Linked DNA regions of Homo sapiens: regions 1 and 2 are each linked to region 3. Evidence: fine-mapped expression QTL. A gene starts in region 3. Each other region holds a variant in brackets. All regions are shown on one strand. Distances are from middle to middle.

Region 1 (10,628 bases), 19 kb after region 3:
TTTGTAGAGATGAGGTTTCACCATGTTGCCCAGGCTAGTTTTGAACTCCTGAGCTCAAACGATCCACATGCCTTGGCCTCCGAAATTGCTGAGATTACAGGCATGAGCCACTGCACCCGGCCCTCTAATGAACATCTTTACAGAGATGTTTCTATGTAATTAGGGTTATTTTCTTAGATTTTCTGAGGTGGCATTAAGATATCAGCCATTTTTATGGCCAATCTGTTCTGGCACCAGTTTACTCCCAGCAGTGCACAGTATCACCTCAGGCATATGAGGGTGAATTTTACCCCATCCTCCCCCCTCAGCATTGAGGGTATTAACATTTTAATTTTTTTAAATTGAACAAATCACTTTATTCATTGCAGCATTTAGAAAAGGATGATTGATTTCATTGTTAAGCATAGCAGGGTTTATATGTAAAAGTTTTTTTCTTTGAAATTTTGAAGTGTCAGAGAATGAACCTTCATATTGACAGTTTGTTCTCTTAGACACGTTGTGATAATTGTGTTAGATAAATTGAGTGGCTGGTTGTCATTTTCTCTCTAAATAATAACTGAAAAGAAATCTTCATGTGCTTTTGTATTTTTTAAATGTCTTTTATAAAATGAATACAAATGTATAACTAACCTTTAGGAGCCCTACATTAAATACATTTTCCAGTGGGTAGGGCCTGGGAGGTGATTATAGTTATTTTCCTAATTGCTCTTATTCATTGGATCATAGCATTTCCTGATATTTCGTCGTAAGGAAATGGTGAAGTGTTTGTTTTATAGTGCAAAATGTCACACCGAACCATGAAACACAGGAACTGTTCGATTTAGGTCTGTTAATATGGCGTGTAAGCTGTCTTGATTTTGTCAGTTCTGTGTTCAAGCAGGAAACACGTTTACAAACGACCTTCTTGCCTTTGATACAGTTGGACATTGTACCTCCTGTAAGAGGTACAGACTGGGCGCTCAAGGACATGAATCCTTGTTGTTTTGCATGTGTGTTTTAAAAAAAATGGGGACACTAATCCTAACCTGTGCTTGTTTGAGGTGTCTTTCAAAACCAGAGAAGGCATCTTATTGTTACAGATAATAACGAAGAATTATGCTAAGAACACTAACAGGAGAAAGTGTGGGAAGGTTTAGGAAAGTGGGGTCAGGGCTTCCAGCACCACGTGTAGACCGAGGCTGCCAGCCTAGGGTAAAGTTCTGTGTCTGCTCATGTATTTCCTAGTATACTGGCTGTGCTCTGCCTCTCGTTTTGCTAATTTCTTTGTCATGGCTACCTCTTTTCTTTCAAAGAGTAGACCAAGTTTCTGAATGTATAGACGAGAAAACACGAAGTGTTATCTAAACCTGATTTTAGTGAACCTTAAAAAAAATTATGATGCTGGAAGGGACATTACATCCCCTTGTGTCAAACTCAGTGCCTGAAATGCAGCCTACCTGGGAAGGGACATGTGTTCAGAGGATTAGAAAGACCAAGAAGATGCTTTCTAAGATCTCCATATATTCTTATCTCCATGTAATCAGAATCTGAAGTTATTCTGTTAAAATGATGACTGCAAGAATGATTGTGGTGTTCATGGTTGTTTTATTTTTTAAGTTGTCATAGAGATCTATAAAAACAAGTATTCAGTGCTTTACTATAAGTATTCTAATTTTTTGACTCAAAGTACTAGTAACTTATATTTTAGCTGGTGGTGGCTTATTTAGGAATTCCAGGAAAAATGCCATAGAGTATTATAGAAATAGTACTAATCTAAGAGGTGAAATTTTGTGTCCTGTTTCTGCTACCACCTGACTAGGCACGTGGCCTTGTCTGGTATTTGTTTTCTTTGTCTTTAAAACAGAGGAAGGGGCTAGATGATGTTCAGAGTCCTTTTATCTCCCATACGCTTTGACCTGAATCCTGTGAGTAAACTGGTAAGATATAAAGAGGATTCTTACTGCTGTTTTTACCTTCCTCAGGATCCTGTTCCCAGTGGGTTTTCTGCAGGGGAAGTTCTGATTCCCTTAGCTGACGAATATGACCCTATGTTTCCTAATGATTATGAGAAAGTAGTGAAGCGCCAAAGAGAGGAACGACAGAGACAGCGGGAGCTGGAAAGACAAAAGGAAATAGAAGAAAGGGAAAAGTAAGGCTTCCTTTGGATTTGGGGATATTTTACAGTTGAAATGTTCATTAAAATGTTAACGAATGAGCGTCGCTGCTGTCTGTAAGGCTGAAGTTAATTGTCATGGGTGATCTGAGCAGTCACTACAAGGAATCAAACTGTTTTACGATTTGTACCTGTTACATCTCAGAATCACAGCAAACTTCACCTGTAGACTGAAGACCTAAAGTGTATATTTTGAGTGAGTTGTTAGAAAAATAACTTATAAACCTGATGTTGAAAATTTTTTTCTATGCTGATACTCTGCTATAGGTTGACTATCCCTTATTCAAAAATCCGAAATCTGAAATGCTCCAAAATCTTTTGAATGCCAACATGCCGCTCAAAGGAAATGTGCATTGGGGGATTTTGGCTTAGGGATGCTGAACTGGTAATTGTAATGCAAATATTCCAAAATTTGAAACACTTCTGGTCCCAGGCATTTGGAATAAGGGATTCTCAACTTGTAAAATCACAGCTATTTAAAGTACTTGAAATATTCTTCTTAACTTTACTATTTTTGAGCCAGGTGGAATTTTTAAAAATTCATATGCAGCTTTTATTTATGTTTTTGCAAAGTACGAGTAGTAGGATGTATTTGTAGTTCTTTTTAAAAATATTTAGTATTATCAAATAGTTAACATGTATTAAATATTAATATACTGTTTCCCATTTATTGAATCATTTCATGAGTGAAAGTGTTATAGACTATTGAAATGATTGAACTATTACTATGTTGATAGGCTTTAACATTGGAAGAGGTCAATGTCAAGGAACCTTTTTTTTCATGCTGGTTGCTCTCGTATACTTATTGGTTCAATTTATCTCTTGAATTTTTCTCACTTTTCATACTTTTATCTACTTTAGTCTTTTACCAGTTATGCTTCCTACCCCCTCTACCCCTGCAACTTCATAGTTGATTGTGACAGGATTTGGATATCTTCTGGTCAAGAGGAAGTCATCCCAGGTTCAGGTCTCTAAATTGGTTCATCTGTGATGAACATTTATTTCCTTTGTTATCACAGAAGGCGTAAAGACAGACATGAAGCAAGTGGGTTTGCAAGGAGACCAGATCCAGATTCTGATGAAGATGAAGATTATGAGCGAGAGAGGAGGAAAAGAAGTAAGGCATGAACAAATATGTCTTAAACATATATAAATACTGGAAGTGCAATTCCACTATGTGCTTTTTCTTTTCAGTTTGATAAATAGTTCATTTGACATTGATTTGGGTAATTTTCTTTCTGGAATCCCAGCAATACACATTTGCGTCACAGTTTTAATTTATATTGGGTTTTCATATGTATTTTCCTTTGAGCTTCACAACCACTTTCTAACATTTATTTATTGGATACTTTGGGACTAGCTTAAAATCTATTCCTGCACTGTCTTTACCTGCAGCACAGTCCAGTTGGCCGATGCTGAATCCACTCTGTTGTTTCTCTTAGGGGGGAAGCATAGTTAACATTGAGTGTGTCTGTTTTGGGCATTGTGACACATTTCATATCCGCTATCTTAGTTAATCCCCAAATGTTTGGTTTTTATTAACTTCTTTTGGAATTCAGTATATAGGTTGAATATTTGTAGGTCTCATTTTTCCAGCTTATAAATTGACTGCCCTTTTTAATAAGGAGGCATGCTTTCCATACTAAGGACATTTGTTTTTTTTTCTTAAACACCAGCAGGAACTAGATAGCTTTGAATGAGAAGACTTTGTTTGACCTTGTAGCTCATGATAGGGAGGTAGTGGCATGCCCATCATATGTATAGTTGTTGACAGATTGATGTTCTTATTTTAATGTGATTAGTAGCAGATTTCCAGTAATCACCCTGAATTTTTTTAACTGAACTTATTAGAGCTAATCTGCTTTTCAGAATCAGTAATCACTCTAGGTCCTAGTGACAAGGTTAGTAAAATGATCATGGAAGTATTTCAAAGGAAATAGAAGAAGGTTTTACTCAGGTTCATATTTCTCCTTGAGGATTTTATATCATCCAGTCCTGTTAATCAAAATGCATGGACACTGGCTTTAGAATAATTTCTAGAATAATTCTTTAGAAGAATGAATTTATTTATTTTTGAGATGGAATCACTCTGTTGCCCAGGCAGGAGTGCAGTGGTGCAATCTCGGCTCACCACAACCTGCAACCTCCTGGGTTCTAGCAATTCTCTTGCCTCGGCCTCCAGAGTAGCTGGGATTACAGGTGTGCGCTACCACGCCCATCTAATTTTTACATTTTTAGTAGAGACAGGGTTTCACCATGTTTGCCAGGCTGGTCTCAAACTCCTGACGTCAAGTGATCCACCCACCTCAGCCTCCCAAAGTCCTGGGATTACAGGTATGAGCCACTGCACCCGGCCTCTTTTTTTTTTTTTTTTTTTTTGGAGACACTCTTGCTCTGTTGCCCAGGCTGGAGTGCAGTGGCGCCATCTCGGCTCACTGCAACCTCCATCTCCTAGTTTCAAATGATTCTTCTGCCTCAGCCTCCCAAGTAGCTGGGATTACAGGTGTGTGCCACCATGCCCAGCTGATTTTTGCATTTTTAGTAGAGATGGGGTTTCACCATGTTGATCAGGCTGGTCTCAAACTCCTAGCCTCAAGTGATTTGCCTGCCTCAGCCTCTCAAAGTGCTGGGATTACAGGAGTGAACCACTGCGTCCAGCCAGAATAATTTCTTTTGTCAAACATTTTGTGCTGATGCAGCATGACTTTGTAATCAATTTTTAAAGTTTTACATTTTGTTTTTATTTCATTGTTGATTAAGCCATAATACATATGTATTATGTAATATTATGTATACGTAATCCATATATGTTAGGACTTATGCCTAATGCAAAATTCCTTGTGGTCTCCACTGATGTTCTCCTTCCAGTTGTCGGATACCAGATAAAAAGATCTGTCTTATCTCTTTTGGTTTGTTTGTGTTCACCATTCGTTGTCCAGGAAATACACCAGGAATAGTGACAACACGCAGCAGTTTCTTCAGGAGCCAGAAGGACCCACGCTTTCAAATATGTGTTTAGTTCCAGTGGTTTGCACACTGGAAAAGGAGCGTGCTGTGTGGTGGGGGAGATATGGCAACGCAGGGAGCTGGGTTTACTCCCTTTCTGTTGATTCACTCCCCTCTGATCATTCTCTTATTTGTAAACTGGATGCAGTAATATCTACTTCAGAGGTCTGTGAAGCCTGAACGAGGCCATGTGTATAAAGGGCCTAATGGGTATTGCTCTCGGTAAATAGTTACATTACTCTCTTTTTAAGTAACTGCTGGTTCTCTTGGTTGTATTGTTTTGCCTTAAAATTCATTTGCAGACTACATTGTGGGGCTCTTGAGTTCCTTTTATGAAGGAACAATTTTGCATATCTGAGGGAGTGTTGCCACTTTTCTACATTTTAAATCCTAGCATCAGAGGTTTGTTCATATGTAGCAGGAGGTCATCTGAAGTAGCAGGTCCTCCTTTTTTAGTTTTTTCTTAGGGGGGTGGGTGATAGATATATGGTGTGTCATAGTCGTTTGGGAGTCTGGCATCGGAAACCTCCTTTAATGCTTGGATTTGTGGTTTTGCAGGTATGGGCGGAGCTGCCATTGCCCCACCCACTTCTCTGGTAGAGAAAGACAAAGAGTGTAAGTAGATCTGTTTCTTCCTCTTTTATTCTGATACAGGTCTTTAACCCAACCATGGGGGATCTCAGCTTGGGCCCCCAGGTTTCCTGAGCGTAGAGGGAAACGGCCTGCAAGCCTGCCTGGCTCTGTCACCTGAGGCCGCACCTGGATCTCAGAATGCAGCGCCCTCCTGCAGAGAGAGACCTTTCTACGCCAGGCTCTGAGGCTTGGATTTCATGCAGTGGGATCCATCTCTTTTTTATGCAATTCACTTTGATTTCATTAACATTTCTTATTTGTTGTTAGATTCATTTGGAGTTAAAACAGCAGATCGTTACAGTTTTTTAACTCAGAGGTTTAGAGGCTGTTATATTCATGATCCTCCACAAGGTGGCAATGCCTTCCTTGATTAGATTTTTTCTTCCCGTTCCATTTCACTGCAGGTGGGTTTGCGTGTCATTGCGTTGCCAAAACACCCTCACCCACTGTTCCTTCTCGCAGTGATCTGCTCTAGAATTTGGGGGTTGGGACTGGACTTCTGAATATCATCTAGGTCATTTTCCCATTCTCTGGATTGGACCATACTTAAACTATCCCAAGCAGATATTCTCATTTATAGTACTTTTTAAAACTTGTTGAATTCTTTATCTTTTAAAGAAGATAATTTCTAAGATATTATGAAATACCTATTATGTGAAAACAACAGACAAACAATAAACCCCAATTGAAACTAGTCTCTGGGAGTGGGGCTCAGGCATCTGGATGGTCTTAAAGCGTCCTACTGACTTTCATCTAACTAGGGTTGAAGCCACCGCTCCAGTGCGTAGCCCCTAACCTCGGACACCTTTGTGGGCCATGAGCTGATGAGATAGTGAGGTCGGGGTCTAGACAGGTGCACCCAAGTTACTGCAGGAGTCAAAAGATGGCCAGATTGTATCTCCTTAGAACATACAGAACATCTTTCCGGCAAGAATATTCATTCAAGAAGATTTTAAAGGGTGAATAACATTTCAGTAAGATATAAAAAAGACGTTTGAGGAGATAGAAATAGCAAAAGGAAAGTTAGAATCAGGAAAGTAGCGTCCTCCCTCTGTGGTTTTAAAAAAAGTCGTATAAAGGCTGTAAAATTGATTTGGTGTTTTTCTCTCCTTGTGGTAAACCAAAAAGTAGGTTAAATTTGTTCAAGATAAATAATTGATACAAGTGAGGTTTCAGAGTGTTTTCTATAGTATTTTGGTGAGCCTACTTTATTTTTCTCCAATAGTACCCCGAGATTTTCCTTATGAAGAGGACTCAAGACCTCGATCACAGTCTTCCAAAGCAGCCATTCCTCCCCCAGTGTACGAGGAACAAGACAGACCGAGATCTCCAACCGGACCTAGCAACTCCTTCCTCGCTAACATGGGGTAATGATTTAATGTTCTTATCTAAGGACTTGAGAGACAGTGTGAAGCGTTGATAGCCCTTTCAATAGATGCAGCTTGTTTGAAACTGAGGACATTCAGGACCCTTGGTGTGTGCAGGTCACACGGTACCTGCCTCAATCGTGTGGAGCGTGTTCCAGTGTAATGATGGGGCTTGTTCAAAACAGCAACCTCCCAGTAGAAGTTTTGACTCATTTTGATGTTGAACATTATTTTCCTAGACAGGCACAGAACCTGATTAATGTTTACATTTGCCTTCATAACGTTTGCAAATAAAATAGCTCATATGAATCAGAGCTGACTTACTGTCTCCAAAGGGCAGGTGATACCTTTTTTTTCCTGATAAAGTGGGCCATTTGCTTTCAGGTCATGGTTCTAAACCTTTGGTCTAAAAAACTCGGGGTCATTCTAACTACAAGTTGACATGTTTGCCAGCATATAAAATTTGACTGTAAGGCTGACGCTCAGGTGGGGCTTGGGGATTTTTTTAAACTGTGCTGGGCTTGGCAAACATTTTGGTTAAGAGGATATTCTGTGTTGTTGACTTTGATCCTGTGAGACGGCTGTCCCATGAAGCAGTATCACATGAAGGCTTTGTTCTGTGCTGTGTTGCATCTGCTGGCTGCTGCCTGTAGCAGAAATGCAGCCGGTGAGACAGTGAGTGGGGTTGAAACTCACTAGTCTCCTTTCAAGTGCTCAGTGACCACATGCAAGTGGTGACGATGTTGGATGGTGCAGACATAGGACATGGCCGTGGCTGCAGGAAGCTTTGTGTACTGGAGGGTTGGACAGACATGAAGCTGGTTTTGTTTTGTTTTGTTTTGTTTTCCCTGTTTATGATAAAAACTGACTTTTTAGCGAATTTGCTTTTAACCAGGAATTAC[A/G]TCTTTAACTTGTGCTTAGGAAAGATGCAAGATGGTACCATTCAGCAGTTTCTGGTCTTTTTAGCCCTAGAATAGCTTGTTCAAATGAAAATGTTAAGGGAATTAAATACAAGAAGTAATGTAGGTGCAGTTCCAGTTGAAGCGGGATTTTGTGGCTTAAGCCCTAAGCAGCAGTGGTCATGGGGTTGGGGTGCCCTTCAGACCCATGCTGCGCCTCAGAGCGCAGTGTGAGAGCCATTTGGTTGTTACAGAAAGCAGTGACTGAGAGTTGTGGGGTCCAGTTTCAGCTCTACCATTAACAGCTGTACAAATAATTTATTTGTTTTCTGAGATGGAGTCTCGCTCTGTCGCCCAGGCTGGAGTGCAGTGGTGCGATCTCGCCTCACTGCAACCTCTGCCTCCCAGGTTCAAGCAGTTCTCCTGCCTCAGCCTGCCAAGTAGCTGGGACTACAGGTGCACACCATCATGCCCAGCTAATTTTTACATTTTTAGTAGAGATGAGGTTTCACCATGTTGGCCAGGCTGGTCTTGAACTCCTGACCTCAGGTGATCCACCCGCCTCGGCTTCCCAAAGTGCTGGGATTATAAGTGTGATCAACTGCACCCAGCCTGTACAAATAATTTCTAATATGGCGTCTTGCATTACTTCTAAGTCCACCCCTTAAGCTAGTCAGCTAATCTTGGCCTCCGTTTATTTCTCATTTGTTAAATAGGTGATCTCTAAGGGTTCTTTCATTTGTATAGTCTGTCATTGGAAACTCTCCTGTGCTATTTAGGAAAATGGGATCATCTTCATTGTACGAAACTTCATACTTACTTTTTGATAGCCACTTTTTAATAAACTGTGGTCATAAGCTATGTGGCAGTGCAGGTCCGGAGCACACAAAAGGTCTTGTGTTTCCTAGCAGGGCACTGAGGAGACTCCACCAGAGAAACTGACATTTCCCCTCCAAGACAACAGGATGTTCTGGATTTTATTCATAGCTTTTTCTATTTCTTTCATGCTGCACATCCCCACAGCTTCCATCTAATAGCCCACTCCTAGTTAATGAGTGACTTTGTTGAAGCCCCTGTGGAGCATGCACTCTCTCCAGAAGGAGGTTGTTGTGATGGAAAAATGCAACCTATCTCCAGTTGACGATGTCAAGGCTAAGAGTCCTTTCCCTTCTTCTCCTGCCAGGGGCACGGTGGCGCACAAGATCATGCAGAAGTACGGCTTCCGGGAGGGCCAGGGTCTGGGGAAGCATGAGCAGGGCCTGAGCACTGCCTTGTCAGTGGAGAAGACCAGCAAGCGTGGCGGCAAGATCATCGTGGGCGACGCCACAGAGAAAGGTGTGTCCCCAGGGAAGCGTGTGACTAGAGGGAAAGGACTGGCCCCATCCATATCAGACATGGCCAGTCTTGATCCTCATGTGTCAGCAGGGGGACAATGAGGCGTGTGGCCAGAGGGAGAGGGCTGGCCCTGCCATCACTAGAACACAGGCCGTCCTGTTCATATGATGCACTGCCACTTCCGTTTTGTGAAACCAGGAATCCTGAGGCTCATCTTTATTTTTTCAGAACAGACGTAGAGAGATGAAGGCTTGTGGAGGAAAAGATGGTGAGAGACTTGGGCAGAAAATGAGTAGTCCTCAGGAAGAAATCTTGGTTATGTGTTTAGAGCATGAAGGACAGAGCCATATAGTGTGGCAGTGAATATACCTGCTATCTCCATCTCAGAGGTCGTCTCTACTTTTCCCTTTTGCCCTTTCAGTATAGATGTGATTTCTGATTCTCTTACAGATTGTTTGCTTTGCGAGATCTGATGTTATGTTGCAGTCTCTTGGTAAATGATGCCTAGTTGGTGTTTTATTTTCATTTAATTTTTACAGTCTGTTCTGTGTTGAGGGAATTCAGGAAAGAGACAAACATATGTTAGCATTTTAATCAGGGAATTAAGTTTGAGTCAGCCTAGCTGAACTTCCTTTGCTAAAGAAAGAAGAAAACTTTTCTGGCAGCCCCGTTCATGCACAGCTTAGGATACATCACGAGCCTGACAGGTGAGTGCCAGAAACCAACAGTTGTCCCGACTTGTGAGGTTATCTGAAGTAAGGCAGCCGGTGGCTGGATTAGTAACTGCATATTCCCCTGGGCCCGTGACCTTGAACGTTTGCTCCAAGTCAACTCACCTATAGGAATTATCACTCACATGCCCTGTCAGCCCTTTGGGAAGTGAGATGAGCAAAAATTGCAAGTAATGGTGGAGGCTCAAAACATCCAGATGCTATTGTAAAAACATGCCAAAGCAAAGCAGAGGCTTTTATTGCAGATAAGGCTGTGTTTTCGCTCAGAGACCAATTGTGTAGATGCCTAGGACATAAATGGTGGGGATCGCTATTGAAATTAAATTAATTATTGTAAGTAGGACTCAGTTCTGTAACACATCTAATGATATGCTGCTCAGTTCTGTAACACATCTAATGGTATGTTTTGATACAGATGCATCCAAGAAGTCAGATTCAAATCCGCTGACTGAAATACTTAAGTGTCCTACTAAAGTGGTCTTACTAAGGGTAAGAAGCTGAGGAA
Region 2 (10,628 bases), 30 kb after region 3:
CTGAAAGATATTCAGTTACTAGACTAGGTAGTATTGACTAAGTTCAGGAGTTGAGAAAAGGATTAGATCAGTGAAAAAATAGACTGCCTTGTGAGCAATAGCAGATATGGGCTGCGCTTTGAAACGAACAGGTGGGATTTGCAGGGAAGGGTATTCTGATTGGGATAATGGCTCGTAGGAGACAGTGAAGATCAGGACTACCAAAATGGAATGGATGGGCCTGTTGGGGATTAGCAGAAGTGCTTAGGTGGGTGGAATTACAGAGGGCTAGGAAAGCTAGACAGAGCTAGTCAAAATGAGACCTGATGTGAAAGGCCACTAGGGCACCAGCCTTTTTAATCTGAAAGCTCTGCTTCCTCTGTTTCTTTATCCTGTTGCTGTTTGTTGACCACATAATTATTTGTTTACGTCATCAGCTGGCACAGGGCCTTTATGAGGTCAGAGACTGCCTAGCCCTGTGTTCCTGGCACCTAACAATGCCTGTCATAAAAACAGGCATTCAGTACGTTTTTGATGATGAACAAATTATACTTATTTCCTTGGTATTTGACAACTACTTGACTGTATATGATGATAATTAGAATATCCACTCTGAGAAATCATTTAAAAGAGAAAACTCATTCAATGCAATCTCAAATGCCTTTACTCATCACGCTCTCATTTTCTTCCAGATTCCTGGTGCCCCTGATGATGAAGCAGTACGGATATTTTTAGAATTTGAGAGAGTTGAATCAGCAATTAAAGGTTAGTGGTACAGCTAAATATTAAAGAATAAAAAAGTTGAATTTACAGCCTTAATCTTTACAAGTAAAGTTACTGTTTAATTAAAGTTAAACCTTTATCTTATAGGATACCTGTATTAACTGTCTTTTGTTTGCCTTTCAGCGGTTGTTGACTTGAATGGGAGGTATTTTGGTGGACGGGTGGTAAAAGCATGTTTCTACAATTTGGACAAATTCAGGGTCTTGGATTTGGCAGAACAAGTTTGATTTTAAGAACTAGAGCACGAGTCATCTCCGGTGATCCTTAAATGAACTGCAGGCTGAGAAAAGAAGGAAAAAGGTCACAGCCTCCATGGCTGTTGCATACCAAGACTCTTGGAAGGACTTCTAAGATATATGTTGATTGATCCCTTTTTTATTTTGTGGTTTTTTAATATAGTATAAAAATCCTTTTAAAAAAACAACAATCTGTGTGCCTCTCTGGTTGTTTCTCTTTTTTATTATTACTCCTGAGTTGATGACATTTTTTGTTAGATTTCATGGTAATTCTCAAGTGCTTCAATGATGCAGCATTTCTTGCACTAAAAAAAAAAAAAAAAAAAAAACTAGAAAGTTTTGGGACATGGGGTTATATTAAATTATTCTTTGTTTTTCTTTTTCTTTTAATAAAGCCTGCAAGTTACTAAATTGTAGTTTCATAAATTCTGTAGTAAAGTATCATCTTGGCAGTGTGCCAAAGGTGAAAATGATGCTTTCTCTAACAGAGAAATTCTTAGTGACTCCAGTCGTAGAAAAACGTCTTTACAACCTGAATAAGATTGAAGAATTGTGAACATACCATGGCCTATTGGATGAATCATTTGCCGTAGGCTAAATCAGACTGTAGGGTTTGTGATGGATTTATGGAGTATGTGGGTATAGAAATCATGAATCTAGCATTTGTTTTCAGAGATTCAAGCATAGTCTTAAGGGTAGATCAGAAATGACAAATGAATTCAAAACCTAGCAGGTGCATTGTAAATGTGTGCCCAGTTATGTTTTGGAAATGGCAGTTCCTTGGGGTCATGTTTCTACTGGCAAAATTTGCAATAGTGTTCTATTGTATGTAATTTTAAAATTTATAAGATTATCCACGTTGGCCAAGTAAACTGTACTGCCAATAGAATTCTGGAATTGTGAGAAATTGTATCATTGAAGTTCAGTAGGATGTGTGGCTTAAAAATTTATCAGGACCACAAAAAAGAAAACAAAAATATTTGGTACTGAGGTTCATTGCCAGGGCAGGAGGTATTTCCAGAAAATACTCATGCCTGTGTTCTGTTCCTTGCTTTCCCAAATACTGCATGTGACTTTCCTAAGCGGCAGCTGAAAGACTCGAGCCCGTGCTGTCTCCTTTGGTTATTATGACATGAAAGTGTATCAAGAACTCAGCATTTCTTTGCATCCATGGACTTGGTTTGGAGACATAAGGAATATTCTGACCCTTTTTAAAAAAGGATTTTCTCATGTTTTTATTTAACATAAATAAAAGAATAACATTTTATCTTTTGTGGTATTATTTTATTGAATAAAATTGAGTTTTATGATAAAAGTGCACCTGTTCTGTAAAGTAAGTTGGGGTTAAGGAATGTGAGGTAAATTACATAATTGAACATTGTGGAAGACAGAATCAAAAGCAGCCCTGGAACTTCAGTTATCTATGGAATTAGGCATACCATTCCTCAAGTGGAAACCATGTTTGTGCTTACAAGTACCGGAGTGTGCTTGTTTAATTTTAGAAACTAATGGTTCCAACCCACCTTTCATGCATGCATTTATTGTTGTTATGCTTTGTAAAACATTGTTTGCACCTAAATGGGTGGCTTTTCCTAACATTCTCATGGTCAGCAACCAGAGAGTTGCAACCAACTCATACTACTTGATTTCCGTTCGCATGAGGACAGCTTGGTGTGTGCCTTTCTCCCCAGTCTTTTATTTTTAAAATAACTGTGTTAATCAGTTAGTGCTTTATTTATAATGAATTTCTGATAGTCGAATAATTTCTAAATCTCCTGCAAGTTAGTACTTGAGAAATTTGAAATTAATTTTCAATATTAACATTTAAGCTAATATAAAAATTTTAAATTTCAATAAAAATTAAAAATTATGTAAGCTACAATGTAACTGGCAAGTTTCCGTGTAATAGACGTTTGTCATTCTTGGTGGCCCATCTGTGAGTTTTTGAAACCCCTTTTT[C/CT]TTTTTTTTTCTTTTTTTTTTGAGACGGAGTCTTGCTCTGTCGCCCAGGCTGGAGTGCAGTGGCATGATCTGGGCTCACTGCAACCTCCGCCTTCTGGGTTCACGCCATTCTTCTGCCTCAGCCTCCCAAGTAGCTGGGACTACAGGCGCCCGCCACCACGCCCGGCTAATTTTTTGTATTTTTAATAGAGACGGGGTTTCTCCGTGTTAGCCAGGATGGTCTTGATCTCCTGACCCGTGATCCGCCTCAGCCTCCCCAAGTGCTGGGATTACAGGTGTGAGCCACCGAGCCCAGCCTGAAACGCCTTTTTCTGTGTGGGGAACTTCCTTGTTTCCCTCCTCCCCGCAAGAGACTAGAAACTTGCTTTCCCAGCCTGTCTTGCAGGTTGAGTAGGGTTGTGCGCTTGGGATCTCTGATCAGACCGGCACCGCAGTGTGGGAGAGAAGCTGTGTGAAGAGTCTGTCGTCTGACTTTGGCAAGGGTTCCTCTGCACAGTGTTGTGTGGCACTGGGGGCAGCAGTGGCAGAGACCTTGTCACCTCTGCTGGTGTGTGGTATCTGGCAGAGCAGTCTATGGAGGGGTTTGGGATTTTTGCTTTACATAAAACCTGCGGCTTGTCCCTGGCCTTTTCCTTTTTTTTTTTTTTTTTTTTTTTTTTTCTGAGACGGAGTCTCACTCTGTTGCCGAGGCTGGAGTGCAGTGGCGCGATCTCGGCTCACTGCAAGCTCTGCCTCCCGGGTTCATGCCATTCTCCTGCCTCAGCCTCCCAAGTAGCTGGGACTACAGGCGCCCACCGCCACACCCGGCTAATTTTTTGTATTTTTAGTAGAGACGGGGTTTCATGGTGTTAGCCAGGATGGTCTCGATCTCCTGACCTCGTGATCCACCCGCCTTGGCCTCCCAAAGTGCTGGGATTACAGGCGTGAGCCACCGCGCCCGGCCTCCTTTTTTTTTTTCTTCTTGAGACAAGAGTCTCACTCTTGCCTAGGCTGAAGTGCAGTGGTACAATCTCAGTTCACTGCAACCTCCACCTCCCAGGTTCAAACAATTCTTGTGCCTCAGCCTCCCAAGAAGCTTGGATTACAGGCATGTGCCACTATGCCTGGCTAATTTTTTTATTTTTAGTGGAAAAAGCGTTGCGCCATGGTGGCCAGGCTGGTCTTGAACTCCTGGGCTCAAATTATCTTTTTGCCAAAGTGCTGGGATTATAGGCATGAGCCACCGCACCCAATCCTTTTTTTTTTTTTTTTTTGGTAGATTTCTTTCTGCTTAAACAAGCTAGAGTGAATTTTTAAATCTGCACCTAAGACCCCTGACTGATAACAGATTGATAGCTGGGATTGCACATGACAAATCCTGAAAGATGAAAGATGGAGGAGGTAGGATGGGACTGGTAAGGACCCGGTTTCCCTGGGCTGAAGAACTGGTGAACCTCGTTACTTGGTGGTGAGGCATTTAGCCAAGCTGCTGCTGTTCCTTGGACTATAGGCTGGTGTTATGGCTTGCCTCGGCCTCCCAATATGCTGGGATTATAGATGTGAGCCACTGGCCTGGTTTTTTTTTTTTTAATGTACATAAATTAAGATTTAGTCGTGGCCGGGCGCGGTGGCTCACGCCTGTAATCCCGGCACTTTGGGAAGCCGAGGCAGGCAGATCACCTGAGGTCAGGAGTTTGAGACCAGCCTGGCAAACATGGCAAAACTCTGTCTCTACTAAAAAAAAATTAGCCAGGTGCGGTGGCGCATGCATGCCTGTAATCCCAGCTACTCAGGAGGCTGAGGCAGAGAATTGCTTGAACCCAGGAGGCGGAGGTTGTAGTGAGCCAAGATTGTGCCGCTGCACTCCAGCCTGGGTGACAGAGAGGGACTCTGTCGCAAAAAAATAAAAAAATAAAATGTATTCATCTTTACAGTATCACACAGAATGGCTTTAAAGCCCTAAGAAATCCCCTGTGCTTCATCTATGTAGTGAAATTTCCACCCTACTCCACACCTGCATTCCTGGCAACTACTGATGTGTTGACTGTCTATAGTTTTGCCTTTGCCAGAATGTCATGTAACTGGAAAGCACATACCATGCAGCTTTTTTCAGACTGGCTGCTTTTGCTTGGCAACGTGCCTGTCAGATTCATGCATCTCTTGTTGTGGCTTGATAGCTCGTTCTTTATTCCACTGTGCGGATGTACCACCATATGTTTATCCATTCACCTACTGACGGCCATATTGATTACTTCTAGTTCTTGGCAGCTATGAGTAAAGCTATAAGCATCCATGTGCAGGTGTTTCATGGACACGTTTTCACATTAGCGGGGTACATATTTAGGAGTGAGACTGCTGGATTACATGGTAAGACTTTCCTTTTGTCTCTCCCGTTTTCAAACTCTGTACTGGCATATAAATTTCCTCAAATCTCTCCCATCTTTAATGGAAATAGGTCAAACCTTGAATTTTTAGCCACTCCCCAACTCCCTGGTGTCCCCATTCTTCTCAGAGAATCCCAACATCCCGCCTCCACCTCCTTGCTTCTTACTGCCTCTTCCACTCAGCCCACACTTGCAGAATGAGGACTGCGTCGACTACAAATTAGACCTCTGCTTCCACCAGGCCTCCTTGATAGTTCAGCTAAGAGCCGTGCGGTGAGTCTCCTGACGTTTTATGGCACTTGACGCTGGTAACCACTCCCTTCCCGAGGACGGAGACCGCGGCCCTGCCAGTATCGCTCACGCTTTACCTCTTCCCAAGTGTTTTTATCTCCTTACCTTGGCCTTGGGCTGCTTCTGTGACTCACCTGTATTTGAATCTCAGCCAGTCTTCCTTACCAAACTTCAGATCTGTATCCAAGTGCCTATTAGACATCATCCCCTGGCTGTCCCCTTTGCACCTCAAACACATGTCCCGAACTTTAACTCACTTCTTCCCTTTCAAGCTCTCCTGCTAAACTCTCTGATTTGGGGGAAAGCATCATCTATTCAGTCATCTAACTCAGAAACCCAAGAATCACCCTCGATTCCTCACTTTCCCTTCTATCTAGATCCAGTCTGTAGTTGAGGACCGCCGGTTCTGTTTCTTTTCCATCTTTCATGGTAATACAGTGGAGCTCCTTCATTTCTGACCCCTTATCTCCTGGGAGTAGGCCCATGGGCTCCCGCTGGTCTCCCTGCTTTAACCGTGCACCCCTCTCATCTTCCAAGGCAATGCCTCAGCTGTTCAAGCCACTCCCGTATACACAATCCTTACCGCGTCTAGACTCCTGCTTGGAAGCCGGGGCGTTCTCACTGCCCTCGCTGCGCCGCGCCTTCCCTTAGGTTCCTGTGGTGGGAGTGTTGGCAGTGACTTCTGCTCACGCTCTCCCTGCTGCCTGGAGAATTGCCCCTTCCCTCATTCCCCTTCCAACACGTATCCTGGGCCTGCTGAGTTGCTACTCATGCGAGGTTTATTGGCACCACAGCCCCATAATTGAGAAACAACAGTCCCCAGCTGCACACCTCCCCCGCGGGAACTACTTTTAACTTTTTAGCTGGCCTGCTGCTGGTCTCTGCCTCCATACTTCTAAATACATCCTCATGAGGCTCCTTCCCTCTCTTCCTAAGCAGATGTCTCGGAAGAAGAGGCTGTACTTACTTTCCACCTCCCTCATCTCCATTCAGTCTTTAACTCGCTACAACTGAAGGAGTAAACCCAGAAAAAGATGGCATTGACTCGGGGAAATAGGGAACCCAAAGTAGGAGAGACGAAAGCAGTTCCCAAGGTCATCATGAAAGAAGTCTTGGTCCATAGCCATACAGGGGCCTGGAGAACTCGTGGTCCATCCGGGAGCGGGAAGATGAGGGGCTTTCCAAAGTTGTAAAATAATGGTAATTAACCATGATATACAACTGACTCAGCTGAGATGAATACACAAAATGCCATATCATATAAATACTGATTACAGGTTTGTTTTTTAATGTTGCCCTGGGCCCAGCTTGAAAGAATGAATGGGGCGGGGGGGGGGGGGGGGGGCGGCGGGCAACGGTGCGGGGGGTGGGGGCATGGGAAAGCTAAACTTTGTTTCTTTTTTTTTTTTTTTCTTTTTTTTGAGACGGACTCTCGCTCTGTCTCCCACGCTGGAGTGCAGTGGCGCGATCTTGGCTGACTACAACCTCTGCTTCCCGGGTTCACGCCATTCTCCTGCCTCAGTCTCTTGAGTAGCTGGGACTACAAGGCGTGCGCCATCACGTTCGGCTAATTTTTGTATTTTTAGAGACGGGGTTTCTCCAGGCTGGTCCCGAATTCCTGATCTCAGGTAATCCACCCACCTCAGCCTCCCAGAGTGCTGGGATTACAGGCGTGAGCCACCATGCCCAGCCCACTCTTCTGTTTTCTAGGAAGTCAGTGGATTGTCAAACGTTCTTTTGGTCTCTCCTGTGCTGGAGCGTTGCGCTGGATCCTGCGTCTTAATCTTCTTGATTTCCTCTCTATTTTTGGTGGAGCTTATCTTGAAGTAGTTTCCTAAGAAAAGATACAGGAGAGATACAGTTTGTTAGGCCATGCATGTCTGAAAAATCTTAATTCTGCATTTTTCTTTTTCTATTTTTCTTTTGAGACAGGGTCTCCGTTGCCCAGGCTGGAGTGCAGTGGCGCGGTCATAGTTCACTGCAACCTTGAACTCAGGAGCTGAAGCGATCCTCCCACCTCAGCCTCTAGAGTAGCTGGGACCACAGGCACTCACCACCACCCACAAAAATCATAATTCTGTCATGCTGAATTGCTAGTTTGACTAAACGTGGACTTCTTGATTAAAACCCATTTTCCCTCAGAATTTTGAGGGCATTGCTACATTCTCATTTTCTTGTTTTGCGGTTGGTAAAGTCAGTGTCCTCCTTGCTGACCTGTTTTTCTTCTCTCTGGAAGGTTCTGGAACCACTGTCTGGAAGTTTCACGACTATGCCGTGGACCTCTTCTCGTTCAGCATGGTGGGCATTGGGGATGAACCCTCTTTTTTTTTTTTGGAGACAGAACCTCGCTCTGTTGCTCAGGCTGGAGTGCAGTGGTGTGATCTCGGCTCACTGCAACCTCCACCTCCCAGGTTCAAGCGATTCTCCTGCCTCGGCCTCCCGAGTAGCTGGGATTACTGGCATGCACATCATGCCTGGCAAATTTTTGTATTTTTAGTAAAGACAGGGTTTCACTATGTTAGCTAGGCTGGTCTTGAACTTCTGACCTCAAGTGAACCGCCCACCTCGGCCTCCCAAAGTGCTGGGATTACAGGCATGAGCCACCGTGCCTGGCCAGGGGATGATCTCTTTCTAGAAATTCATATCCTTCAATTCTGGAAATGTTTCTCATGATAGTTCTTTGATAACTGACCCTCCTTCCTTCACTGTATTTCTCTTTCTGGGACTTTTACTAGTCAGTGTATTTCTGGGTTGGTCTCTCTCTTTTCTCTTTTATTGGCAACCCTGATCTAAGGAACTAAGGTATAGAGGTGGTTGAGTCCTGACCAGAGCCGTGAGGGTCTAGATTTATGTAAATGATGGAGCCATACACGTTACTTTATTTATAGCAAGATATTGTAAAGATTTTGAAATGTCATTTATATGAAATGTCAAGATTATTAAATTCGTAGTTCACTGTAACCTCAAACTCCTGGGCTCAAGCAATCCTCCCACCTCAGCCTCCAAAGTAGCTGGGACTACAGGCACATCCCACCATGCCCAGCTAATTTTTGTATTTTTTGTAGAGACGGGGTTTCACCATGTTGCCTAGCCTTGTCTCGAACTCCTGGACTCAAGCAATCCTCCTGCCTTGACCTCCCAAAGTGTGGGGATTACAGGCACTGAGCCACTGCACCTGGTCAATGCATTTTTAAATATGGTCTAAGGGTATCAGCAAGTTGCAGATTTGATAACAGCTGGGTCTTTTCATTTAGTAACCACCCTTTTTTCCTCCTCTGTACTCTCACACAATATTAAAATACCTCCTATTAAATCTCTATTATCCTCTTCTCTTCCTGTTGCATTTTTCTCCCACAACTTAAGGCTCAAGTCTAAGCAGTGAAAACATAAGGTTTCCGATAAGCTAAGACAGTGTCTATCCATGGACGGGTTCGTGACAAACCCCTGTGGGTCCCTGGCTTGCTGAAACCAGGTTTCACATGAGGGGAGGAAGTGGCTTGACAAGAAGGGGGTTGCTAAGGGAACTTTATTACTCATTTCTCTTGGAAAAAAGCAGAAGGAATAAATGGAATAAAAGTCTGATAATTTGGCAGACATGCTTTGCAGTTACTTGCAGTACTGTGCTTAGGTTCAGAATAAGGAACTAAGTAACAATAATTGACGCTGAATCTCTTCAGAAGTAAGCTGATGGTGACTCAATAAACTCTCCCAGATGACCGCTGTATACACAGGTATTTTATGAGGGTGCAACTGGATTAAGTCATTCTGAACTGAATTTTGCATAATTATTACCAAAATTTGGATTGAAAAGTAAGTTTACAGTTGGCATTCCTATTTAATTTTAGTTTTTGTCAAAATAATATCTGTACATAATTATAAAATCAACTAAGTCTTCAAATACTCATAAATCAGAACAGCACTCTGCCTCCACCAGTCCCATTCTCCAAAGGAAAACACATTCAGTTCTTGTTTTTTTTTCTTGTTGTTGTTTTGGTTTTTGCATTTTTCTTTTTTCTTTTTTTTTTTTGAGACAGAGTTTTGCTCTTGTCGCGCAGGCTTGAATTCCTGGGCTCAAGCGACCCTCCACCCTTGGCCTCCCAAAGTGCAAGGGATTACAGGTGTGAGCCACCATACCAGCCTTCAAGGGCAGTTCTGATGCCTAACACCTGCTGATCCAGCTCAACAATATTGGATCACTTGAGGTCAGGAGTTCGAGACCAGCCTGGCCAACAGGGTGAAACACTCTCTCTACTAAAAACACAAAAATTATCCTGGCATGGTGGCGTGTGCCTGTAAGCCCAGCTATTTGGGAGGCTGAGACAGGAGAATCACTTGAACCCAGGAGGCAGAGGCTGCAGTGAGCCGAGATTGTGCCGCTGCACTCTAGCCTGGGTGACAGAGTCAAACTCTGTCTCAAAAAAAAAAAAAAAAGTCTCCGATGCCCTCTGGCCTTCATGGTGGACATTGGCATGTAAAGCTCACAAACACCTTCTCCCTTGCAAGGAGGATGATACAGAATCTTCACATTCTTCTGCATGGCACCAATTGTGCTATTTTAACAACAATGACTGTGCAGAAATGAAGCCAGTGCTTTTTTCCTCCAAGCCTTTGGACAAAGCATGTTTTATGACAAAAATAATCCCTCCGGCTCACATGTCCTCTCAGGCTTCCCACTGCTCTCCCACACAGCCTCTCGCTCCGAGAAGTGAGTCCCCTCCCGCTAATGCCAATCCTTCGGGCACACCCAGAACTTGTTTCCAGAGACTGAAATAACATTTCCAACGGGGTGGTGCCACCGGATTTGCTGAGCTGTTTAGTGGCCCATAGTGAGCTGATTTGTGTTGGGTAGATTATCTTCCCTGGGCGTGACGGGAAGGAGAGACTCAAGGCAGAACTTCTTTTTGAAACAAATGAATTTGGAAATATTAGGCAAGGAGGAAATAGTGATATAACTTGTTTTTTCCAGTATTGAAAGATGCCACCTCTGTACTTAACCACAGAGTAAGAAATATTCAGG
Region 3 (10,628 bases):
TTAGGTTGTGTGCATATGTAAGCTTGGCACTTAAAAAATATCCACACGAGCCCAGGTGCAGGCTTATGCCTGTAACCTCAGCACTTTGGGAGGCTGACGTGGGTGGATGACTTGGGCTCAGGAGTTCAAGAACAGCCTAGGCAATACGGCAAAACCCCGTCTCTACAAAAAATACAAAAAAACTAGCTGGGGATGGTGGCACATGCCTGTAGTCCCAACTACTTGGGAAGCTGAGATGGGAGGATTGCTTGAGCCTGGGATTTCGGGGCTGCAGTGAGCAGTGATTATGCCACTGCACTCCAGCCTGGGTGACAGAGTGAGACCCTGTCTCAAAACTATATCAAAATAAAAAATATGCATATGAAAGCCATAAATTGCACACAAAAGTTATGTTTTTAAAAAAGTAAATTTCTTATTGAAAAGATTAGTTTTCAACTAATCAATGCAATTTAAAAATGTATGAAAATATTTTCAAACAAGCAGAACAGACACCAATTAGGTGGAAGATGAATTAAAACTTTAAAAATTTCAGAAAATTCTATGTACTTTAAAAATTGATGATCTCCTTCATTATATTTTTATTTTTATTTTTCTCTTTTTTGAGACAGTCTCACTCTGTAGCCCAGGCTGGAGTACAGTGGTGAGATCTCAGCTTACTGCAACCTCTGCCTCCCAGGTCTGAGCGAATCTCCTTCCTCAGCCTCCTGAGTAGCTGGGATTATAAGCGCCCACCACCATGCCCGGCTAATTTTTGTATTTTTAGTAGAGACGGAGTTTCACCATGTTGGCCAGGCCGGTGTGGAACTCCTGGCCTCAAGTGATCCACCCACCTTGGCCTCCCAAAGTGCTGGGATTATAAACGTGAGCCACCGCGCCCAGCCTTCTTTCATTATTTTTATTACAAAAGCAATGCAAGCATATTACTCAGAGATAAAAAAGGCAAACAAGCAAAAAAATTTAAATAAAGAATCCTGATAATCCCTATCTGGAGCCAGCCATATTGGCAAATACCTTATAGATACTTTGTATATATTTATAAATTTTTAAAACAAAAATGGGATCCTTCCATGTAAATTATTTGTCTCTCAACATAATTGAATTTCCCTAAGTTGTTATTGTTCGCTAGTTTGTTCCTATATTTTTACTATTAGAAACCTTACAGAGCAGGAATAACTGTAGAGAATGATTTAGAAAGACAAAAAAAGTGAAAAAACTTTAAAAAATCTGTGAGATGGGCCGGGCATGGTGGCTCACACCTGTAATCCCAGCACTTTGGGAGGCCAAGGCGGGTGGATCACTTGAGGTCAGGAGTTTGAGACCAGCCTGGCCAACATGGTGAAATATCATCTCTACCAAAACTACAAAAATTAGCAGGGCGTGGTGGCAGGCGTCTGTAATCCCACCTACTCAGGAGGTTGAGGCAGGAGAATTGCTCGAACCCAGGAGGTGGAGGTTGCAGTGAGCCCAGATCATACCATCGCACTCCAGCCTGGGCAACAAGAGAGAGACTCCATCGAAAGAAAAAGAAAGAAAGAAAGAAAGAAAGAAAGAAAGAAAGAAAGAAAGAAAGAAGGAAAGAAGGAAAGAAGGAAAGAAGGAAAGAAGGAAAGAAGGAAAGAAGGAAAGAAGGAAGGAAGGAAGGAAGGAAGGAAGGAAAGATTTCTGAAATGGCCGAAGCTGCTTAGAGATATACATGCCTGTAATCCCAGCACTTTGGGAGGCCGAGGTGGGCGGATCACCGGAGGTCAGGAGTTCGAGACCAGCCTGGCCAACATGGTGAAACCCCGTCTCTACTAAAAATACAAAAAGTAGCCGGGCATGGTGGCGGGCACCTGTAATCCCAGCTACTTAGGAAGCTGAGGCAGGAGAATCGCTTGAACCCGGGAGGCGGAGGTTGCAGTGAGCTGAGATTACTCCATTGCACTCCAGCCTGGGTGACAAGAGCAAGACTCCGTCTCAAAAAAAAAAAAAAAAAAAAAGATACAAAAAAGGAGACAAAAATCATTCTCCACGGTGCACCGAAAGCATCCCTACACACAGAATCCTTGGGAATACTTGTTTTTGATCAAATTATAATCTGATCAAATTGTCTTAACTAGCTTGTCTTCCCTCCAGGGCCCACACCCCTTTCTTTTCCTGTTTCGGGGTCCCCCGGTTCCATCCATGCTGCATACTGTAGCATTTCACCCAGCCTTTCCTGCCAGCCCAAACACCGCCCTTATCTTCTTTCTTCCTGGAACATCTGCCCTGCTAATTCCCAGTTTCCGATGAATTCTACCATCTGCTGCCTGCCAGCCTCCTGCCAGGCGCTGAGCACAGCTGGAGCAGATCACACGACTTGTTTACGCAGGAGTCACTACCGATGTTTGCTCTGCAGCCCCGAGGGGGCGCTCCAGCGCGTCTGTCTTGTCCCTCTTCTAAAGCTCCACCGTTTTGTGTGCGCTTTCTGATAGTTGCATGGCCTGGGTTCTGTTCCCCCATTGGGTTAAGCTTTGGATTCTCGGTGCATAAAATAAAGATGATATTTGTTACTATTGACAGGAAATGGAGGCAAGCATGAGACTGCTCACGTACTAGGAAATGAAGTAAGGCAGTTTTCCTCCTGGAAGTTAAACTAGAAAATTCCTAAACAATGGATGTGATTGCATCTATGGTCTGTAAACCAAAAAGTTACTTGTGTATGTATGATGGAATGATTTGGGAACAAAGGCACAAATTTTCAACCAAAAAGGGAGGAAGGAGTGGTCTCAGACTGCAGAGTGGAGACGCCAAGCAGATTAGGGAGTACAGGTAGACAGCAGGTTCAACCTGGAGGAAGTCCTGCAGCTCTGGACCTCCTAATCAGGGCTTTTGCACCCCCACCGGTGCTTTGATCACGGGGTGGGGAGAGACCCAGTCTAGACACCTTCTATCTTTGCCCTTCTTCCTTTTTCTGTTTACACGCTATTACTTTCTGCTTCTTTTATTGACCAAGTACGTCCTTCTGCTTCTCACATTTTTATTTTATTTCCAGTTTCTTGCACAAGTGCTTAATTCATTTAGCTTTTTCCAAGTTTTTAATTGATACAAAAACTTAAAACCATGAATTTTCCTCTTAGTACTCTCTGAGCTAAATCCCATGAGTATGTCATTTTCATACTTTTCTAGATATTATGTTATTTTGATTTTGTTTTCCTTTTTAGTCCAAGTGTTATTTAAGCATTTAAAAATTTTCAAGGGGTAGGCATGTTTTATTTTCTGTTTTTTCATTAATTTCTACTTTTATTGAATTGCTGCAGATAATATTACCGATATGATTCTACTTATTGGACTATGTTAAGATTTTTCTCTGTGGTTTAAAATATGACTAATTGTTGTGAATATTCCTTAGACACTGGAAAAGATGTAATGTCTATTTAGGGGACAGTGTTTGATATATTAGATCTATCATAGGAATTGTATTTTTAGGTCTTCTCAATCCCCATTTACTTTTTGTACTCTTCGTCTGGCAAGGAGTGTGCCAATTATTTCTGTCTATTCACTCACTCCTACAGTGTTTGCTATGAATAATGAGATTATGTGATTTGGTGCAAAGATTTTCCTATTTTTCCTATTTTTTTCTTGATTGTGAATTGTGCTCCTCAAGATTATAAAATGTCCTTCTTAATCTTACTTAATGCTTTTTGCCCTGAAATCAACTTTGTAGTAAGCGGTTTGTGATTCCTGATTTTTTTAATTTTTTTGCATATTCCTGGTATATCTTTTCCAATCTTGTATTTTCAAACTCAGAATAACGTTAGCACTTTCTTGTATACAACACTGAGTTGCATGATGGTTTGTGCTCCTATCTGAGATTGTAGTTTTTTAGTAGGTAAGCTTAGGTCTATATTTCTTCTTGTGAGACATTTGGTCTTGTTCTGTCATATAGTTTGGTTACGCTTTCTGTTTTGTAACTTTTTAAAATATTTCCCTATATATATATTTTTTTTGCTGTGGTTTTGTGTGTGTGTGTGTGTGTGTGCATGCATGTATGTGTGGGTGCATGTATGTGTGGATTATTTGAAAGCTTTGTAGTTTTGTTCTGGGTTACCCTCAGAATCATACCATCCCATGACGTCCTTAATCCTCTATTTCTTTAGATTGTCTTTTGTCTCTCCACTGTATTTCTTTTTTCCCCCTTTTCCCGTTTTCTTAATGACTGGATTTTAATGGATTATAGTAACTTTCTTGGTATACTCCTTCGGACTAAGACGTCTGCTTAAATCTCTACTATTTGATTTATCGGCTTGAACTCTATTTGACACCCAATTAATTACAGATGTAAAAATCATATTTACCCGAAGTCCCACTTTCCCTTTCCCTCCCTGCTTCTGTCAGCGACGTCGTTTTTAAAGACCGAGGCTTTATAGCATTGACATTCTTTTCTGTACCCCTAATCGCGGCATCTGTTTCCATAATCTTACGCTTAACCTCGTGCTCCTTGCCATCCTTTTGCAGCATCTGGCCTATGCAGACTTATTTTCAACTTTTTGCTTATATAGGAGTGGCTTTGAATGAATGAGATCGAGGGGCCTGGAGGGACTTCCCCCACCTCCCCTATCAGAAAGCCCGGCCTCGGACCACTTCTCCTCCTCACCATCTGGGGGCGCTGCCGCGCTCCCCAAGCCTTGTGGAATTTCGAAAATGTGCGCCAGGGCGACACCTCTTGATGGTAAGAAGACGCCGGCGGAGGGGAGCGTGCAGTGCGGTCCTCCCGCGGGCAGGGGGCAGTGCGGCAAGGCGCCCTCGGCGCAGGCGCAGAGGCCGAAGCAGGCGCAGGCGCAGGCGGGGCGCAGGCGCGGGCGCGCTCTCCCGGCAGCCCGCGCTCCCTGACCCCGCGCCGCCGAGCGCCCTGAGGACTCAGCGAAGGGTGGGCGCCGCCGAGGCCTCCTGCCGCTGGCGGGTTTCCGCGGAGTGCCGCCCGGCTCCGCTCTGCCGCCGGCGCGGCTCATGGGCAGAGTCGGCCGGGCGGGCCGGGTAAGTGGCGCCCCGGCGGCCCCGGGTGGGTGGCCTGGCGGGACCTGAGGCGGGCGCGCCTTCCCGGGAGGCGCTAGACGCAAGCCCGCGGCTTTAGGCCCGTCGCGAGGGGCGGAGGCCGGGCCAGCGCAGCCGGAGCCTCCGAGGGTCTCAGTCCCCGCGGCGGGCGCTGGTCTCTCCACGCGGCTGCGGCCCGGTACCCTCCGCCCGCCGCCGCCTCTGGTGACCCTGGCCCTGACCTTCTCCCTCTTCCCTTCCTCCTCCTCCTCCTCATGTCTGCCTCGGGCTGTTTGGTGCTGAAGAGCGTTTCTTCTCCGTCTCGTGCACCGCATCCTGACGAAATTGTCTGGTCACCAGAACCGAGTAGCCCGTAGCGTGTCCCCCCTGGCCCTGCACGGTTGCCCCTCTCTGGGGCTCGGAGCCGGTTCCTCCCGGGGTCTCAGAACTGGGAGTGCAGACGTTGGCGTTTCTCAGACTCCGGAGCTGCCCGGGACAGGAATGCAGCCCTAACCCCGGCGTCGCCTCGGCTCGTGCAGTTTGAGCGGTGTTTCAGCGCTCACGTCCGACCCCAGGCAGTCTTTGAGCTTCGCCTCTTGCCCCGAGAATGTGTAATGATCGGAGAATGCAGGTGGAATGAGGTTCTGCCCCTGCTTGCAGGAGTTTGGTTTCTGGGAAAGCAGGCGTGAAAACCCAGGCCCGGGTTGATTTGAGAAACGCAAGTGGGGTCTGGAAGGACCTCTCTTGAGAGAGGAGGTCATGCTTATGTTGAGTCTTGAAGGTACGTTGTTAGATGTGAGAGGTGGGAAAAAGGCTGCCGGCGGAGGAAGTAAGTGCGAAAGTAGCAGAAGCGAAGCCCCGTAGTGCGTTCTGGAAGCTGCAGGTTAGGCAGAAAGAAAGGTTTGAGGAGGGGCTGCTGTGTTTCCAGGAGTAGTCAGGTCAGAACATGGAGGTTTCTTGAGAAGCAGTAAAGAAGCGCCATTGAGGGTCCTTATTTTGCTAGAGCCAGGCATATGGATGGGAAATAGGATATTCTAGATAAGGGCAAGATTCGCATATACTCAAATAGATGGGTAGATGTGCACTGGCTCCCCGCAGCAGATGGAGTTTTTAAAAGGATGCAACACAAGTTTCCACATTTTTAGTTGTAAAGGCTGCAGACATTTTGATCGTAATGACAGCTTTTAGGGAATATGGGGTAACAGTTTAGTGAGCTAAACGAGAGGGCTTTATTTTTAGAGTTAGTTAAGCAAGGTGCTGCGTGCTGTCCAGTTTATAACAGAGCAGGTTGTGCGGTTGTGGAGCTCTGCGGAACCAAAGGCAGCCTTTCTGGAGGCTCTTGAGAGAATTGTTGTACACTTCCAAATGCAGCTTTATTTAAAGTGGATTTCTTTTTACCTGGTTTGTTTTAACTTACCTTCCCATTCTCCCCTGCCTATGAATTTTTCAGACCTCCTCCCAGCAGGGAACAGATGATCCCAGGCTAGTCATCTCTCAAACCTTTCATAATAGTCAATAGTGAAGGAAGTTCTGTTATTCGCCTAAATTACAGGTGACTGTAGTGGACTGTGTTTGCAATACTAGCCTATGGCATTTTGGTAACAGCCAGAGGGTGGGATTGAATGGAAAGATTAAACTGACAAGGGCGTCAGATGGAGGTATGGGAAAAATTTTTTTTTAATTCTTTAGAAAGTCATGGTAGATCTTATACTTGAGGTAGATGCTTTTTAAGCTGTATTTTTTGCGGACACCAAAGTGCACCACCCCTCCTGTTCCTTTCTGGGTATATTTGCCATATATATGTATATAAATATATAAATATTTATATATTTATATATATTTATATATTTTTATATATATATTTATATACATATATTTTTTTCTCCTGAGACAGAGTCTCACTCTATAGTCCAGGCTGGAGTGCAGCGGTGTAAGTCGGCTCACTGCAACCTCCACTTCCCAGGTTCAAATGGTTCTCTGGCCTCAACCTCCTGAGTAGCTGGAATTACAGGCGCTCGCAACCATGCTCGGCCAATTTTTGTATTTTCAGTAGGGACGGGGTTTCACCATGTTGGCCAGGCTGGTCTCGAACTCCTGATCTCAAGTGATCCTCCTGCCTCGGCCTCCCAAAGTGCTGGGATTACAGGCGTGAGCCACTGGGCCCGGTCTTGCCATATTCTTTAGGCTTCAAAGAGGCATGCTTTGTTTTATGATGCATGAATATCTGTTTAGTGATAGAAATATTTCTTGCTAACAAGCCTGCCTCTTTAGGTGCTCAGAACTCAGACCTTGACTCGTTATTGGTTGTGTGGTGGTGGTAGTTTTTTTCTCCTTAATTATGGTTTGCAATTTAAATTTTATCCTACTTATCATAAGTTATGTGCTTAAAAAGCAGATCTGCAGATCTCACTGTTTCATAATAATGTGATTTAAATAGGTGCACTAACATTTTTCATCCATTCACTAACACATTTAAAAAATATTAATAGAGCCACTTAACAATGTTCAAGCATGGTGCTGAGCTAGAGATACAAAGCTGAACATAAGAAACACCCCTGCCTTTAGGGGGCTTACACTGCAGGAAGAAACCGCTGTGTGAAACAATAGGCAGCATAACTTGCCAAGGTTGCTGTGATCTGAGTATGCTTGAGGAAACCAGTTGGGGGGGGTTAGTTTTATGTGGGGGCAATAGTCACTAAAGGCTTCTGAGATGCACTTGAAAGATAAGTAGGTGGGGTGCTTCTGAGAAGACTCTTCCATGTTCTTTTTCCTGCCAGTTGCACATGTTTTAAAAAAATACTTTCCAGCTTGGGTGGAATCTTGAAAACTCACCATTCTTCCTTCTGGCAGAACCATGTTTGTTATGTTTCCTAAGAAAAAATGTAGCATATATGAAACGTGGGTTGCTCAAAGGGAAGTGTTGCCACAAAAAGGAAGGAAATAGCAAATATTTTAAAGTTATAAAAACCAGCAATTTGTATTTACTTTTGATCCTGGCTTCTTATGGTATATCCAGTTGTTACAAAGTACAGCTTTTTGTTACCTGGCAGCAGACCTAATGAAATAAATGTGTTATGTTGTCTAAGTAATAATGTCAACGTTAATTAGGGTAAGTTTGGGTCTTGGCAGTCTTATTAATGTACTTATTACATTTCAGTAGTTGCGGTGGGGAGAATTAATGAACAAACTATTGTATATTAAATGCTTAATATAGCGAAAATAAAGAATACACACTTTTTAAGGAATAGATTAACTAAAACTGTAAATAAAATTAACATAAAAGGAGGAAAGCAAGGAAATAATGAGAAGAGGATTCCGGGGAAATTACATGAATGGGTTGGGGGAGTAGTATGGTTGAGTGTGGTTTCTTAGTCTAGATCCTGTCTTGTTTTGGGTGGTGAATTCACAGGTGCTTGCAGCATTATAATAATTAAACAAAAGCAGGTAATAAGTGTGTGAATGGATGAGAGTGTGATGTTACTATGATTAATCCCATTCTGTGAACTTAAAATTCAGTGAAAATGAGAAAAACGAAGAAAGCACTTTTGCATTTGCTGTGATGCAGAGATTTGATTTTATAAGCTCAATGTTACAGAAAACTAGCAGGTGCTGGTAAGATGACATCAGTTTCTAATATTTAAAGCGTTTTGCAGGTTTGAGAAGAGAAATGAGGACCTTTAAATGAGCATGAGATTTGCTGCCTGATGATTTCTGAAACTTTTGCGCAATGCAGCAAATCAACTGGAATTGTCAGTCAGCCATCTTAAATGACATGGAATCAGAGGAGATGTGTGGTCTCATAAAATCTCATTAATTCACTATTTAATTTTTGCTAAATATTGAATCTATTGATGGAAGAACTGTTGGCAGCTGAGATCTAGTACACTGCTAGATTTTTAGCCTCAAAGTTTAGAGAACTCTTTTCATCAGAGTTGACTCTTCTGGGGAGGGTGAGGAGTGTTGCCTCCCTCTCTGGGGGTTACTTCCTTCCCTTATTCCCCAGTGCTGCCTCTTTGCCTATTTATTTTTTATTTTATTTTTTTGAGACAGTCTCGCTCTATCATCCAGGCTGGAGTGCAGTGGTGCAATCTTGGCTCACTGCGACCTCCGCCTCCCGGGTTCAAGCAATTCTCCTATCTCACCCTCTTGTCTCAGCTGGGACAGGACTACAGGCGTGCAGCACCACACCTGGCTAGTTTTATATTTTTAATAGAGATGGGTTTTCACCACGTAGGCCAGGCTGGTCTCAAACTCCTGACCTCAAGTGATCCGCCCGCCTCGGTCTCCCAAAGTGCTGGGATTACAGGCATGAGCCACCGCAGCCGGCCCATTATTAGTATTTTAATAAAGCTTATTAAATGCTTGCTATATGACAGAAATTGTAGATGCAAAAATAAATAAGTGAATCTTTCCCCTCGAAGTTTAATGGGCATTTGGTTAACCCATTTCTGGTGGCACTAACGTATTCATAAACACTTTCGGTAAAGTTCTCAAGTTATAAAGAGAAATGGGTTGAGTATCCCTTACCCAAAATGCTTGGGACCAGAAGTGTTTCAGATTTCGGATATTTTTAGATTTTTAGAATGCCTGCATATACATAATGAGATACCTTGAGGATGCGACCCATGTCTAAACACAAAATTCATTTATGCTTCATATATACTTTCTACACATAGCCTGAATATGCAATATATGTCATACTTTTAATAATTTTATGCATGCAAAAAGATTTCACTCTGTTTTTGACTGTGACCCATCACATGAAGTCAAGTGTGGAATTTTTTTTTTTTTTTTTTTTTTTTGAGACAGAGTCTCACTCTGTCACACAGGCTGGAATGCAGTGGTGCAATCTTGGCTCACCGCAAGCTCTGCCTTCTGGGTTCACGCCATTCTCCCGCCTCAGCCTCCTGAGTAGCTGGGACTACAGGTGCCCGCCACCATGCCTGGCTAATTTTGTTTCTGTATTTTTAGTAGAGACGGGGTTTCACCGTGTTAGCCAGGATGGTCTCGATCTCCTGACCTCGTGATCCACCCGCCTCAGCCTCCCAAAGTGCTGGTATTAGAGGTGCGAGACACCGCACCCGGCCTGGTGTGGAATGTTCTACTTTGGGGTCATGTTGTTGCTCGGAACGTTTTAGGTTTTGAAGGATTTCAGATTTTCATACTGGAGATAGTCTGTATTGAGAAAAGCAAATATCTAGAGTTTAGTTTGAGTTGCAAACAAATTTTGATTTATCTTTGTGATTTCCCAGAAAGTCGCATTGTTTATTTCTCAGAATCTGTTAGTATTCCCTTTCCATTTTAAGAATAAAGAAAGAACAGAAGAACCTGTAGTTCAGTAGGCTTTGGTTTGCTGACCAGTTGGATGAAGAGGGCTCAAAAGATTAAACTAAGTTAGATGAAAGGTGCATGGTCATTTCTGAAGAAATGTGTTTGGGAGCCACAGTGCTAAGCTGGACACTCAGCATGGTTTTTCTGTGCTGTTGCTCTGTTTGAGTTTTCTTAGATTAAAATTTAAGGGTATGTATCTAGATGTGAACAATGAGTTTTGAGTTCTGGGTAAGCTGGAAGAAAAGTGTACAAAAGCCTCAAAAGCTGTTTGGTGCAGTGTTGTTCCTTCTGGCCAGTGATTATTG

What was found.
Region 1: its variant is fine-mapped to the expression of RBM17 in whole blood (INTERVAL, PIP above 0.99).
Region 2: its variant is fine-mapped to the expression of RBM17 in whole blood (INTERVAL, PIP above 0.99).

What each region holds. Positions count from the first base shown.
Region 1 is chr10:6,102,970-6,113,597 of GRCh38, forward strand. It overlaps RBM17 (RNA binding motif protein 17), which reads left to right. Exons shown (of 12, transcript NM_032905.5): 4 at 1,962-2,128; 5 at 3,172-3,269; 6 at 5,717-5,773; 7 at 7,017-7,158; 8 at 9,241-9,392; 9 at 10,539-10,612. Among named protein-coding and RNA genes, the nearest start is that of RBM17, 19 kb to the left of the region's middle. RefSeq lists an enhancer at 4,841-5,536. The variant A/G (reference allele first, on the strand shown) is at 8,061.
Region 2 is chr10:6,114,568-6,125,195 of GRCh38, forward strand. RBM17 (RNA binding motif protein 17) reads left to right here. Exons shown (of 12, transcript NM_032905.5): 11 at 672-744; 12 at 886-2,880. The coding sequence ends at 989. It overlaps LOC101928080 (a long non-coding RNA gene), which reads right to left. Exons shown (of 3, transcript XR_930619.3): 3 at 7,017-7,445. Among named protein-coding and RNA genes, the nearest start is that of RBM17, 31 kb to the left of the region's middle. RefSeq lists a silencer at 1,325-1,525. The variant C/CT (reference allele first, on the strand shown) is at 2,958.
Region 3 is chr10:6,084,199-6,094,826 of GRCh38, forward strand. RBM17 (RNA binding motif protein 17) reads left to right here and starts at 4,836. Exons shown (of 12, transcript NM_032905.5): 1 at 4,836-4,995. RefSeq lists enhancers at 4,488-4,537, 5,494-6,332 and silencers at 4,698-5,137, 5,148-5,237, 5,508-5,567.